Linked DNA regions of Homo sapiens: regions 1 and 3 are each linked to region 2. The links come from fine-mapping of genetic effects on gene expression. A gene starts in region 2. Each other region holds a variant in brackets. All regions are shown on one strand. Distances are from middle to middle.

Region 1 (2,758 bases), 65 kb before region 2:
CCCCAACTGCAGAAATGGGAAAGGGAGACCCTCCTCTCCCAAACACACACCCCCACTGGAGAAGCTGAAGGTCTGTTTGCAGGAGAAGTTTCCAACTTTACCTGGAGCTGAGTCAAGTTAGAGAGGCAAGCGAAATAACAGGGGTAGAGGAAGCAGCAGAAAGGCCCTGGGAGTTTGCTGGGTCCCCAAGCAGGCCATTCCTGCCTGGCACCACAGGGATCCATTGGGAGGGTGGCCAGAGGAGCAGGGGATAAAACTCCCCAGGGAGAAGGAATTCTCTAGCTGAACTTTGTAACAATTTGAACAGGGTGAGAAGCCTCCTGACCAGAACTCAAGGTAGGGTGCAAATCCTGCATGCAGACTTCACCGGCAGGGGGAAAACTAAAGCCCTTTTCTCTTGCAGCTGGGAGGCGGATAGCCTGGGGCAAGCCTGCTGCCCGCCTGTGGCCTGGAAACAGACTCAGAGTTGTGAGAGGGGCACGGTGGGAGTGAGACCATGGGAGTGAGACCAGCCCTTCAGTTTGTGTGGGAGCTGAGTGAGGCCTGTGACTGCCGGCTTTCCCCCACTTTACTGACAACCTGCATGACTCAGCAGAGGCAGTCATAATCTTCCTAGGTACACAACTCAAGTGACCTAGGAATCTCTTCCCCCATCCCCAACAGCAGTCGCAACAAGACCCGCCCAAGGAGAGTCTGAGCTCAGACATGCCTAATCCTGCCCCCACCTGATGGTCCTTCCCTGTCCACCCTGGTAGTGGAAGACAAAGGGCATATAATCTTGGGAGTTCTAGGACCCCACCTACCACCAGTCTCTCTCCACACTACTACAGCTGATGTTTTCTGGAAAGCACCACCTCCTGGCAGGAGGCCAACCAACACAAAAATAGGGTATTAAACCACCAAAACTAAGGATCCTCACGGAGTCCATTGCACCCTCCACCAGAACAGGTGCTGGTATCCACAGCTGAGAGACCCATAGATGGTTCACATCACAGGACTCTGTGCAGACATCCCCTACTACCAGCCCAGAGCTGAGTAGACTTGCTGGGTGGCTAGACCCAGAAGAGAGACAGCAATCACTGCAATTTGGTTCACAGGAAGCCACATCCATAGGAAAAGAGAGAGAATACTACATCAAGGGAACACTTCGTGGAACAAAAGAATCTGAACGATAGCCTTCATCCCTAGACCTTCCCTCTGACAGAGCCTACCCCAATGAGAAGGAACCAGAAAACCAACCCTGGTAACATGATAAAACAAGGCTCTTCAACACCCCCAAAAAATCATACTAATTCACCAGCAATGGATCCAAACCAAGAAGATTCCCTGATTTACCTGAAAAAGAATTCAGGAGGTTAGTTATTAAGCTAATCAGGGAGGGACCAGAGAAAGGCAAAGCCCAAGGCAAGGAAATCCAAAAATGATACAAGAAGTGAAGGGAGAAACACTCAAGAAAATAGATAGCTTAATGAAAAAACAAAAATTCAGGAAACTTTGGACACACTTTTAGAAATGCAAAATGCTCTAGAAAGTCTCAGTAATAGATATGAACAAGTAGAAGAAAGAAATTCAGAGCTCAAAGACAAGGTCTTTGAATTAACCCAATCCAACAAAGACAAAGAAAAAAGAATAAGAAAATATGAACAAGCCTCCAAAAAGTCTGGGATTATGTTAAACAACCAAACCTGAGAATAATCGGTATATCCGAGGAAGAAGAGAATTCTAAAAGCCTGGAAAACA[TACTC/T]GGGAGAGTAATCAAGGAAAATATCCCCAGCCTTGTGAGAGACCTAAACATCCAAATACAGGAAGCACAAAGAACACCTGTGAAATTCATCACAAAAAGATCTTTCCCTAGGCACGTTGTCATCAGGTTATCCAAACTCAAGATGAAGGAAAGAATCAAGAGCCATGAGACAGAAGCACAGGGTAACTTATAAAGGAAAACCTACCATATTAACAGCAGACTTCTCAGCAGAAACCCTATAAGCTAGAAGGAATTGGGGACCTATCTTCAGCCTCCTCAAACAAAACAATTATCAGCCAAGAATTTCGTATCCAGTGAAACTAAGCATCGTATGTGAACGAAAGATAAGCCGTTTTCAGACAAAGAAATGCTGAGATAATTCGCCATTACCAAATCACCACTACAAGAACTTCTAAAAGGAGCTGTAAATCTTGAAAGAAATCCTGGAAACACATCAAAACAGAACCTCTTTAAAGCATAAATCACACAGTACCCATAATGCAAAAATACAAGTTAAAAAGCAAAAACACAAAACAAAACCAAAGTACATAGGCAAGAAAGAGCACTACGAAAGTAAAGTAACGGTACCTCACATTTCAATACTAACATTGAATGTAAATGACCTAAATGCTCCACTTAAAAGGTACAGAACCGCAGAATGGATAAGAACTCACCAACCATCTGCTGCCTTTGGGAGACTCACCTAACACATAAGGACTCACATAAACTTAAAGCAGTGGAAAAAGGCATTTAATGCAAATGGACACCAAAAGCGAGCAGGGGTAGCTCTTCTTATATCAGACAAAACAAACTTTAAAGCAACAGTGGTTAAAAGAGACAAAGAGGGACAGTATATAATGGTAAAAGGCTTTGTCCGACAGAAAAATATCATAGTCTTAAACATACATGCACCTAACACTGGAGCTCCCAAACTTATAAAACAATTACTAATAGACCCAAGAAATGAGATAGACAGCAACACAATAATAGTGGGAGACTTCAATATTCCACTGA
Region 2 (2,731 bases):
AATGACAGCCCTATACCCAAACATGCACCCCCTACTCTAGACAGATGATCACTCTACTGTTCTCCCTGCCTTTTTATTCACCTTATCGCCAATTAAAAACACTTCTCTACTCCCGTTTGTCTCAGTAAATCTTATCCATTTTCCATGTGCCATCTCCTCAGAAGTTTTCCTGAGCTTGGCAGGGCTAGTTCTCTTGACAATTCCACTTGCAGTTGTGGTTCACAGCACACAAGTAAAGCTTTGTTGTTTCTCTTGTGATTAGTCCGTGAAGGGGCTCTGACTTGATCACTTTTCTACATTGCCACCAATACCTAAATCCAACCGCCCCAATGCCAATACTTAGCCAGTGTTAAGCACGTAGTGTTTAAACACACCTCAACACGCAAGTATTGTAAGATAATGACCACACAACAGGGCAAATACAAAGTTAAAGCAGGTCCGGGACCAATACAAAGCATCTTTACCAATAAAATGCCGTGATGACGCTGTCACCCATTCCGGATTCACGAATCATTCTTCAAAAGTCCGGCTCCAAAACTATGTGGAGACTGAAATCCCCTGAAGAAAAAAAAAAAAAACCGCCAAAATGACAGCTAAGACAGAGGCCAGACTAACCCCTGGCCCTCCCAAATTCCCTCTCGCTCCACAAGTGGGTTCACAAGAGACACAAACGCACCCAGGAAGACCTCCGCTCCCTCAGACGCGGGGCGGGCCCTGCGACTTCACTCTGGGAGGGACATTTCCGCTCACCCAGCTCTGCGACCCTCGCTCCTGCGGAGTCAGCTTCTGCTCGCGGAGGGGGAAGGGCAAAAGGACAGTGCGTCCCAACCCGTCCCTCTCCAGCTGAGCCTGTCAGAGACCAGCCCAGCTCTGAAATCAAGCCGTTGAGAAAAGGGAATTCGGCCCTCCGCCGCCTCTTCAGTTTAAAATCGTTTCCCGACTCGCTCTGCGGCCCCACGCAGGAAGCCTCCTTGGCGCCTCGCCGATTCCGTATCAGTGAAGCAACTAAAATTGCCATTTTAACTGAGGGCAAGGCCGAGCCACTTAACCACTATCGTCAACCTTTCCAATCGTGCTCGGTTGCTCCTCAGTTTTCCTACCGGTGCGAAGCTTTCTCTCAAATTTCCGCCCGTAGTAGGCATGGCGGCGGCACCTCACCACTGATTCGTTGAATTCCTTCCCGGTAATCTTGGGCACTAGCGGGCGGAGTTGAAGGGCGCTTGGACCCCAGCGGCGATCTGTGTTTGGGTTCGCGCTCTGGGAGAATTTTGGCTTTGCTCGCCTTCCTCTTTCAGAAGACTCGAAATCGGCCAGCAGGTCTGCGAGATTTGAAACGCGACTGTTACTCCTTGTTTTCCGGTTCTGGCCGCGGGAGCCTCTCGAGAAGCGTGGAAAGAGGAGAAGGGCGTATACCTTGTGACCGCCTCTGGTTGTCTTGGGCTCGCGCCTGGCGCCGCTACGTGGAGTCGCTCTCTCGTCGTCACTTTTGGCTGCCGACTTGTTGAGTAGAAGTGCAGACTGATGCTTTAAGACTCAGGGAGAGGTCTTTCCCTTATCTCCACCCCAGCAAGCACCCCAGAGACCTTGGAGATTTGTCTTGTTTCTAGACACGTGTACTCCAATGTTGTGCGGAGGAGGCCTTAAATATTCGAGAAGAGAGTGGGAACTCCTGGAATTTTAAGGGATTTCTGTGTATTTCCAAAACTGACTTTTAACTACCGGCAGCGTGGGATTTCGTGATTGTTTTTCGCCATCGTGTGGCTCCAACATGTACTTCCCTTCTTGGTTAAGTCAGCTGTACAGGGGTTTATCCAGACCCATCAGAAGGACCACCCAACCGATCTGGGGTTCTCTCTACAGAAGTCTGTTGCAGAGTTCACAGAGGAGAATTCCAGGTGAAAATAGCGAAGAGATCTATCCTATGAACAGTACTTCAGCCTGTTATCTACGGCCGGAGAGCTTTTATTCCATTTTTCATTTTTTCCCCCATTATTATTATTATTATTATTATTATTATTATTATTTGAGACGGAGTCTCGCTCTGCTGCCCAGGCTAGAGTGAAGTGGCGCGATCTCCGCTCACTGCAAGCTCCGCCTCCCGGGTTCACGCCATTCTCCTGCCTCAGCCTCCCGAGTAGCTGGGACTACAGGCGCCCGCGACCACGCCCGGCTAATTTTTCTGTATTTTTGGTAGAGCCGGGGTTTCACTGTGTTAGCCAGGATGGTCTCGATCTCCTGACCTCGTGATCCACCCGCCTCCGCCTCCCATAGTGCTGGGATTACAGGCGTGAGCCACCGCGCCCGGCTTTTCCCCTGTTCTTAACTGGATAGCCTTATGTGTAGAAGCGAAATTCACTCTCATTATATTCATTATACGGCAGTTTTTTTTCCCTGAGTTTTTAGAAAGACCACAAAAAGGTAACCACGTAATATATAGAATACTCTGCTTTTGGTTGATGCCTTAAAAAAATCCTTCTTCGGCCGGGCGCGGTGGCTCACGTCGTTAATCCCAGCACTTTGGGAGGTCGAGGAGGGCGGATCACGAGGTCAGGAGATCGAGACCATCCTGGCTAACACGGTGAAACCCCGTCTCTACTAAAAATAAAAAAAAAATTAGCCGGGCGTGGTGGCGGGCGCCTGTAGTCCCCGCTGCTGGGGAGGCCGAGGCAGGAGAATGGCGTGAACCTCGGAGGCGGAGCTTGCAGTGAGCCGAGATCGCGCCACTGCACTC
Region 3 (2,755 bases), 27 kb before region 2:
GATTTAAAATTTATTTGCTGCTCTTCTTTTTCTAGGATGGAGCCTGCTAGAATATACAACCAAAATACCACAAATTTAAAGATACTAAAAATTTAAAGATACACAAATTTAATGATACTCCAGGCTGGGTGCAGTGGCTCCTGCCTGCAATCCCAGCACTTTGGGAGGCCAAGAGGGGAGGATCACTTGAGCCCAGGAGTTCAAGACTAGCCTGGGCAACACAGCAAGACCCCAACTCTAAAAAAAAAAAAATTATCAAAAAAAAGAAAAAAGGCCAGACATGGTGTTACACACCTGTAGTCCAGCTACTCAGGAAGCTGGGGCAAGAAGACCACTTTAGCCCAAGAGTTTGAGCCCAGCCTAAGCAACACAGCAAGATCCCATCTCTAAAATAAAAATATAAAGGCCAAGTGTGGTGGCTCACGTCCATAATCCTAGCATTTGGGGAGGCCAAGGCAGGAGGATTGTTTGAGCCTCGGCTCAGGTGGGAAGGGTTAAAGACCAGCCTGGGCAATATACTGAAACCCCATCTCTACCAAAAATACAAAAAATTAGCTGGGCATTATTGCATGCACCTGTAGTCCGAGCTACTTGGGAGGCTGAGGAGGGAGGATGGTTTGAGCCCAGGAGGCAGAGGCTACAGTGAGCTGAGATCATGCCACTGCACTCCAGCCTGGGCAACAGAGCCAGACCCTGTCTCAAAATAAAATAAAAGTAAATTAAATTAAAATAGATACTGAAAAAAATTTGTGTGGGCTGGGAACAGTGGCTCATGCCTGTAATACCAGCACTTTGGGAGGCCAATGCAGGAGGATCGCTTGAGCCCAGGAGAACAGCTTGAACAACATAGGGAGACCTCATCTCTACAAAAATTAAAAAATTAGCCAGGCTTGGTGGCAATATGCCTGTGGTCTCAGCTACTTGGAAGGCTGAGTTTGGAGGATTGTTTGGGCCAGGGAGGTCAAGGCTGCAGTGAACTGTGATTGTGCCACTGCACTCTAGCCTGGACAACAGAGCAAGACCGTGTCTCAAAAAAGAATAAAAAAACTTGTGTGATTATGCCATGAACTTAATACAGTTAGGCTCATTTTTTTTTAATTGCTAAGGATTGCTTTGTTTTTTCCTTTTGTTCTAATTTTCTTTCATAATTATACAAAACACTTACATGGTTCTAAACTATTAAAAAGGAACATTCAGGTAAA[T/G]CTTAACTTTCATTCCTGTCCCCTCTACTCTGTTCCTTCCTTCTCCCTATAAGTAAATACAGTTATAAGTTTGTGGTTTATCCTTTCATTGTTTTTTGAAAGCATAAGGAAATACACTCATATCTCCCTCATTCCTTACATAAAAAGTACAATACTCTACATTCTGTCCACATACATTGCTCTTTCACATAACAGTACATCTTGGAGATCACTCCATGGGAGTAAAGAGATATCTTCCCCAATCCTTTTTATAGCTGCATAGTAGTAATTCATTTTGCAGCTATACCAGGCCTGATGAGCATCTGAGTTGTTTTTAGTCTTGCTATTACAAATACTATTGTAATAAGTAACCTTGTACATGCTTCATTTCATATTTTTTTGCCAGTGAATTTTTGGGACAGAATCCTAGAAGTGGAATTGCTAATCAAAGGGTGACTGCACACATAGTTTTGTTTAATATTGCTAACTTCTTCTCCATTAGGGTTTTATCATTTGCAATAACCTTTTAACTGTTTCCCTTCTTCCACTCTTGTCTACCTACACCCATTCTCCCTCATATCTTATAAAATCCTATAAAATACTAATTGAATCATATTACTCTCTTACTTAAAATCTTTCAGTGGCTTCCCATTGCATTTAGAATAAAATCCAATCTCTTCACACTATAAAAACTTAGATGATAGAGCTCCTGCCTCTGTATCAAGTTAGGATTAAGTTTGACTATGAGCAAGAAAGACCCAAAATGACAACAGCTAAAACAAGAGAGAAGTTTACTTCTCTGACAAGTAAGTCTAGAGGAAGACTGCCCAAGGCTGGCACTGGAGTTCACCTTCAAGAAAACCTCAGGGCACAAGCTCCTCCCAGGCCATGCTCTGTCATCCCTAGGACTTGTTCCTCAACCCCAAGACCTAAGAGAATAGCTATAGTACTAGTCATAATATCAATGTTCCAGGCAGCAAAGTTGGAAGAAGGGAAAAGTAAGAAAAGGGGGAAGGGGTACATGCCAGTTGTTTTTTATTATAGGTAAGATTTCTGGAAGCTCTATATGACACTTCAATTTGTATCCCAAATCAGAACATATTCATATGACTATACCTACCTACGAGGAAGGCTGGAAAATATCATCTTTATTCTGGGCAGCCAGGTGCCCTAGCCAAAAATTGGGACATTTTATGCCATGGAAGAAGTCTTTGCTGCACAACCTATTCAGTTTCAGCTCATAATAGGCCATACACCCTTATTCACTATGCTCTAGCCAAAAAACTTCCTTTGTTCTTCAAAGCAGCCAAACTCTTACCTATCTCAAGGTTTCTCCTGCCTAGCACACCCTTCCTCAGATCTTCACATGGCTGGTTCCAACTCATCATTCAGGACTCAGTTCAAAAGGTCACTTCCTCAGACAGACCTTCTTTGACTACTGTATGAAAGGTAGGCCCCACCCCAGTCACCCTTTTTCATATTGCACTGCCTTATTTTCTTCATAGCATTTGTCTCCATCTGAAATTATTAACCTTTTGCCTTATTTCACTAAAATATAATTTCCTCAGAACAAA

Which allele goes with the higher level. Positions count from the first base shown, and alleles are read on the strand shown. Sizes are in standard deviations (SD) of each study's normalised expression. Not every link is listed here.
With allele TACTC in place of T in region 1, the expression in subcutaneous fat of the gene that starts at base 1,212 in region 2 is higher (small effect, 0.20 SD a copy in GTEx).

Evidence for each region. PIP is the estimated chance that this variant, and not a neighbour inherited with it, causes the effect.
Region 1: its variant is the best candidate, but not a certain one, in a credible set for the expression of DARS2 in subcutaneous fat (GTEx, PIP 0.84).
Region 3: its variant is the best candidate, but not a certain one, in a credible set for the expression of DARS2 in whole blood (INTERVAL, PIP 0.87).

What each region holds. Positions count from the first base shown.
Region 1 is chr1:173,758,552-173,761,309 of GRCh38, forward strand. All of the region lies in intron 7 of KLHL20 (kelch like family member 20), which reads left to right. Among named protein-coding and RNA genes, the nearest start is that of KLHL20, 45 kb to the left of the region's middle. RefSeq lists an enhancer at 383-883. The variant TACTC/T (reference allele first, on the strand shown) is at 1,741.
Region 2 is chr1:173,823,462-173,826,192 of GRCh38, forward strand. DARS2 (aspartyl-tRNA synthetase 2, mitochondrial) reads left to right here and starts at 1,212. Exons shown (of 17, transcript NM_018122.5): 1 at 1,212-1,895. The coding sequence starts at 1,769. CENPL (centromere protein L) reads right to left here and starts at 1,422. Exons shown (of 6, transcript NM_001387287.1): 1 at 751-1,422; 2 at 465-558. RefSeq lists enhancers at 699-938, 916-1,434, 1,169-1,728, 1,435-1,952, 2,594-2,731.
Region 3 is chr1:173,796,199-173,798,953 of GRCh38, forward strand. No RefSeq gene overlaps it. Among named protein-coding and RNA genes, the nearest start is that of DARS2, 27 kb to the right of the region's middle. RefSeq lists a silencer at 2,359-2,559. The variant T/G (reference allele first, on the strand shown) is at 1,203.